2 separate regions of the Homo sapiens genome follow, and region 2 is reported to be linked to region 1. The links are microRNA targets in miRTarBase. Many come from high-throughput screens and were not tested one by one. Region 1 holds a microRNA gene; the other region holds the end of a gene's coding sequence.
Evidence for each region. Region 1 holds the annotated microRNA hsa-miR-3194-3p (AGCUCUGCUGCUCACUGGCAGU, at 1,095-1,116, opposite strand). A microRNA usually pairs through its seed, bases 2 to 8, with sites in the 3' UTR of a target mRNA and lowers its output. Matches are read on the target gene's strand: a 7mer-m8 pairs with bases 2 to 8, a 7mer-A1 pairs with bases 2 to 7 and ends in A, and an 8mer does both.

Region 2: miRTarBase lists FAM9B as a target of hsa-miR-3194-3p. Seed matches in the 3' UTR shown: 7mer-A1 at 1,479-1,485.

The regions. Positions count from the first base shown.
Region 1 is chr20:51,451,818-51,454,817 of GRCh38, forward strand. MIR3194 (microRNA 3194) reads right to left here and starts at 1,160; the gene lies at 1,088-1,160. It overlaps NFATC2 (nuclear factor of activated T cells 2), which reads right to left. Exons shown (of 11, transcript NM_012340.5): 6 at 2,731-2,871.
Region 2 is chrX:9,022,966-9,026,196 of GRCh38, reverse strand. FAM9B (family with sequence similarity 9 member B) reads left to right here. Exons shown (of 9, transcript NM_205849.3): 8 at 614-713; 9 at 820-1,965. The coding sequence ends at 682. Among named protein-coding and RNA genes, the nearest start is that of FAM9B, 9.5 kb to the left of the region's middle.

The DNA.
Region 1 (3,000 bases):
ACTGTCTCCCGTCAACCCCCAGATGGGACTACCTAGTTGCAGGAAAACAAGCTCAGGGCTCCCAGTGATTCTACATGATGGTGAGTTGTATAATTATTTTATTGTATATTACAATGTAATAATCATAAAAATAAGGTACACAATAAATGTAATGTGCTTGAATCATCCTGAAACCATCAGCCCATCTCCCCAACCCTTGAAAAGAACTGTCTTCCATGCAACTGGTCCCTGGTGCCAAAAAGGTTGGGGACTGCTGGTGCAGAGTCTTCTTGCCTAGAGCAGACTTTACCTTCATCATCTCTGATCCCTCAAGCAACGCTACTCCTCAGCTCACTCCTCAACTCACTGCCACCTGGGTACGTGTGATTCAAATCACCAGAGGCCCCCCAATCACTGGACTCTCAGGCTGACCTCGGGCTCTGTGACCTTCATAGCACTGCCTCTGCTGACCCTTCCCAAGTCTCCTTCCCCTGGTCTCCAGGGCACCAGACTCCCCTGGTTCTCCTCCTCCTGCTGTGACAGCTCCTCCTCTGCCACCTTTAAGGGATGTGGCTCTCAGTTCTCTAAGCCTCCCCTTCTCCCACTGGAGGCCATCCTGGGAGGTCGGAGCCAATTCCCAGGACTTCACCTCAGATCTCATTGCTGACAGCTCCCATGACAACATCTGCAGCCAGGATCTGGTTTCTTAGTCTAGACCACGTGGCCACATACCCACCAATCTCTTGCCTTTCCACAGAGGTGAGATCATGGTTCATCCAAGAAGGCCCATGGGTACATGAGACTCAACGCTTCCACTTCCAAAATGAAACCCGTCCTCCCTGCCCAACCTCATCCCCACACAGACCTCCTCTCCTGTGTGCTAAATCTCAGCTGGCCAAGTGCACCACGTGAACAAAACAATCTCGACACTCAACCTCTTCCCCTTCCCCATCCACAGCAGCTCCAGAAAAACAGCAGCAGCCCCTGCCCCTTACCGAGCACTTCCGGTGCTAAGCCCACTTGCTCTAATTCATTCAGACCTTACCTTTGTGGGTAGGCACTGTCACTGTCCCTGCTTTTCAGGGGATAGATGATGGAGAGTTTCCGCAGGTGACACTGCCAGTGAGCAGCAGAGCTGCCCGGGTGGCACGCAGCCCTCCTGGTGGCTGGCCCTGCCACCTGCGTTCTTAATGCCTCTCTACACCACTACGTCCCATCAAACCTCAGTGACATCTGCCTTCTAAACCACTCCCGACCCATCCCTGCATCTCCCTTCCCCACTGCCACAGCCTTACTTAATACCTTTTTTGTTATTTTTCGCAAAGGCGTCATCAAACCCTTTTAAAATAAATTCTGCCTCTTGTTATGCTTCCAACTGTGAGAATGCAGTTGTCACACCCCGGTCACATGTCCAGCCCATCCCAGAAGGATGATTTGTGCGAGACTGGAAGAAGCACTCTTTGCCTAAGACAGTCTGCTTCCCCCTGCCAGAAGTTGTCTTACTAACGTGTAAACTGGTGATGTATCCAATTTGAATGGCAGCCCTCAGAGGAGGTGCCCTTGTACAGTGCACAATCCCTCCAACTGGACAACTCACCTGTTATATTCTCGGATTGTTCTAAGGACAATAAACAAATAGACAAACATCAACACCCCTTTGAAGTAACCTACTGAAATCATGTCTGTTAAGGAAAAGGAAAATTGGTTCTAGTATCCAAAATAAGTGTCCCAAGTTATTTGAGCTAATTTCCTTCTAACAACACATTTGTTTCATTAATTATTGCTTAATCTGATATTTTCCTACTTCAGATCAGCATCTTTTCTACCACATACCCACTGAAAAAGACACCGATAGTACACCAAAGGAAGAATACACGTGGTGAATAAACAAAACATTATGCGTCTCAGAGCAAGGAAATGCAAAGTAGAAAGAAGTACCAATTCCACAATGATTCCTTTTTAATTTAAAAAAATGGCATTTCTGGGATGGGGGTGAAACTATGACTGACATGATGGCAACTTCAATTTGTAGATTTCTGGAAGGTAATTTAGCAATATGTATTTAAAGTCCTCAGAATGACTATCCAAAATTCCACTGCTGGGAATAAACCCTAAATAAACTAAAAAGATATACATATAGATTCATGTACAAGATTAATTAATCCTAGAAGTATAAGCTGATTCACTGCAGAACTACTTATAATAAAAATACAAGTAGCCAATATTAATTGGCTTATGCTGTACTTGGCACTATTATAATTACGTGACATGTATTAGCTCATTTAACCTCCATGACAACTTTATGGGGTAAGAAATTTTAACGGATAGGTAATATGCCTCGGATCACCAAGCAAGCAGATAACAAACCCAGAATTTGAACCCAAGATATCCAGGGCCAGAGTATGCATGCTTTATCACTGTGCTGTTTGGCCTCCCTTCTTGATAATAGCAAAAAGTTTTAAAAATTTCCTTCCTTATGTAAAAAAGTAATTTTAAAAAAAGGATTGAGGGTGGGAGATAATCTCATTTTCTGTCAAAATGACCTAGAAGAGTTAAAATGTAGAATGGCACATTCATGCAATGGCGAATGGTATGGCCATCACAATCCCTGAAGACACGCTGAGTAAAAAGAGCAGGGTATAAAACTGCACGGTGGGATCTACCCCCCAAAACCAAAGTTGTATATAATAAAGAGATGGTCACTTTTGCATGATTCTGGGGGACAGAGAAAGAGCTCAAAAATCCACTGACCTGTGGTCTTCTCAGTAAACACAACTTTGGACTCGGATGTAAAGTTCTGCCCCGTGAGGATCATTTGCTGGCCGCCATAGACCAGGCAGCTGTCTGTGTCTTGTCTTTCAACCATGGGCAGCTCGTGAGCAGATCGCTGGGCTGCAGGCAAAAGAGAGAGAAGTCACTGTGATAAGGGGAGATGTCTGTTCAAAAGAGGAGGTCTGATTTCATGGTACTGAGATATGACATGCTCTGCCCACCTGTGTCACCTGTTGTTATCTAAAATGT
Region 2 (3,231 bases), not on the chromosome of region 1:
CAGTTACACAAGTTTTGTATTACTTGTTTTTTATTTGTGCATTTGCTCATGTCATAGAAATACGGAAGATTGTGTATTCATTTTTTACATCTTCCTCAGCATTAACCTACAACATTTTAGGGAGTAGGAACTGTTGAACTATTTGTTGAGTAAAGAGTATATATTTCAAACACAGTTACGTTTTCTCTAACTTGATGAGGTCATATCACCAACCATTTTATCCCTTCAATGGAAACCATGTTATGTAGGCTATTGCTGATAATACATGGGTCGCTACCTGCTGAAAAAAAATATAATATTTCATGATATAAGCCTGCCCGTCTTTTTCTGTCTTCGCTCCATCTTGACCTTAAGATGTTCTTCAACCCATTTTATTTAAGCAAAGTACATGACTGTTAGACCTGCTAAAATAATATGTCACTGAAATCTGGCATTAAAAAATTTAATTGGGTATTTGGAGCTCCATGTATTGATTATAGTTTTTTCTATTTGAAATGAATAACTGGCATCCTTTGAATATTAAAAGCTGTTTCCTTTTGACATTTAATTAACCCTGTTTAAAATGCGAGATATAAAGTGGTGGTTTGTCAGTGAACTAGACTTTTTCTTTTAGGCTCTTGAGGACTTTGAAGACCTTTGTGACAGAGTTTTTTCCGATGAAGACAGTGAACTTGATAACTAGACATGTTTTTAAATAAAATCATGTCAGAACTGTAAGTAGTGCATATTTAATATTAAAAACTCAGGATTGATGTAGCACTGGAATATTTTATTTGCAGAAATGTGTATTACAGTTACTTAAATTTTTTTTTGAAACAGCTTTTGGAAAAGTTGGCACTTACCCAGTTGTCTCTTCAACCTCTGTTATTCTGATGACTGAAGAAAGAACTTGAACCTATGTTATATGATACAAGCACAACTTGAGCTACAGTAAACTACATGACAGTGTTTTGATAATTGTTGTATAAATCGGTATAGCTCCTCTGTCACTCGTCTGTTAAATGCCAGACCTCGTTTCTATGATCTGTTGAATGAATCCTAGACACTTCTGTGAGAAAGCAGGGATTGCATAGTTATGTACACGGTCAATTAAATTTTAACATTAAAGATAATTTAGATTTCGATTTGGCCTCTGTGGATTTGTATCAGTTCCAAAAATGTAGAAAGCACAGGCATAGAAAAGTACATTTTTCTCTAATAAAAGAAGACAATATCTGCTGGGTGTGGTGGCTCACGCCTGTAATCCCAGCACTTTGGGAGGCCGAGGGGAGTGGATCACTTGAGGTCAGGAGTTTGAGACCAGCCTGGCCAACATGGTGAAACCCCATCTCTGCTAAAAATACCAAAATTACCCGGGCGTGGTGGCACGCACGTGTAGTTCCAGCTACTCAGGAAGCTGAGGCAGGAGGATCTCTTGAACCCGGGAGTTGGAGGTTGCAGTAAGCCAAGATTGTGCCACTGCACTCCAGCCTGGGCGACAGAGCAAGACTCTTTCTCAGAAAACAAGAAGAAGAAGACAAAAGCTATCTTATCTGTGCGTTCTTTTGTATTTACTCATTAGGATAAAGAGGCAATTCCAATGAAAGTAGGACTTCAAAAAATAGATATACTCTATGGCCATATCAAAATTATTAAAAGCACCTTACTGTCTGTGTTCTTAAAAAAAATTATACTGCTGTAAATGATTAAGGCAACTGAGCAAGATATATTAATATCAGTGCTGAGCCACTGGTTTGTGGGTATGTCATTTCCACAGACATCAAAATGCTATTTAGTTTGTTTTGGTCCATCATTCAATGATACCTCCCCTTAGAATTGAATGAAAGCATTTTGTTAACATTTATGTATGCTTACAATTATTTCACATCTGTGGCAAGGTAAATTTTGTAGAGTGCTTTGTTTATCCAGTTTAATATTCGTGGATTATGTGGAAGTTTATATGGACATCTAAAAACTTGAATGATGAATTCGCCTGCCTTTCCTTTTTTTAATGTGCAGTTTTCACATGTAACAACATATAACAAACATGTAAAAAGATTTTTTGCATGTAACATGTTAAAAAGATGTACATGTTTTTACATGTAAAACAATTTTACATGTAACATGTAAAAAAAGAAATGTTCATTTGGAAACACTTTATTTAGTAAATATGAAATTCAGAATATATATGGAGTAAGTGAAGTAAATGTATTCTTTTGCCAAGTTTCTGAAATTCCATTCATGAATCCTTCAAAACACAGTACTCCCATTGGGAGGAGAGGAGTGACTTCCTCTCATTTTTCCTCGTGCTATTTATGTTAATTGGCCCCTGTATACCACTCACCTTTTCTGGGTTTTCCAAGTTTAAGAAAAAAAACAAGTTCATTCAGATTGTGTTTTTCTGCCTGCAGTCACGTATACAGCAATAAGTGAGTCCCTATGGGGAGCATTTAATTCCTAAAGTTTGCATTTTCATAAAGGATTTTCCTTTTACCCAAAGCGTGTGTTGGTACTACTAAGTACTATGAAGTACTACTTTAAGTTTCTAAAAAGATCCTTATTTGAGATCTCTTTCAGTAGTTACAGAGCCAAAATAAGCACTGCAGAGGTCCATGTCTGAGTTCTGTTGTACATCCTGGGTTATCTGACTACTATTTACTCTATAGTGGAAGGACAAGAAAGAGGCCACAGTGTACTTAATGATGGAACAGTTGATGTTTATGCCACCCCTTACTACCTCAAATGAGTAACTGTGTACTTGAAGTCATATTATTTTTAGAGACCAGGTGTCGCTCTGGCCCAGCCAGAATGCAGTGGTACGATCATAGCTCATTGCAACCTTGACCTCCTGGGCTCAAGCAATCCTCTCACCTGAGCCTTCAGAGTGGCTGGTACCACAGGTGTGTGCACCACATCCAACTTATTTATAATATATTATATATTATATATTATACATAATATATTATATATTATATATTATACATAATATATTATATATTATATATTATACATAATATAATATATATTATATATTATACATAATATAATATATATTATATCTTATACATAATATAATATATATTATATATTATACATAATATAATATATATTATATCTTATACATAATATAATATATATTATATCTTATACATAATATAATATATATTATATCTTATACATAATATAATATATATTATATCTTATACATAATATAATATATATTATATCTTATACATAATATAATATATATTA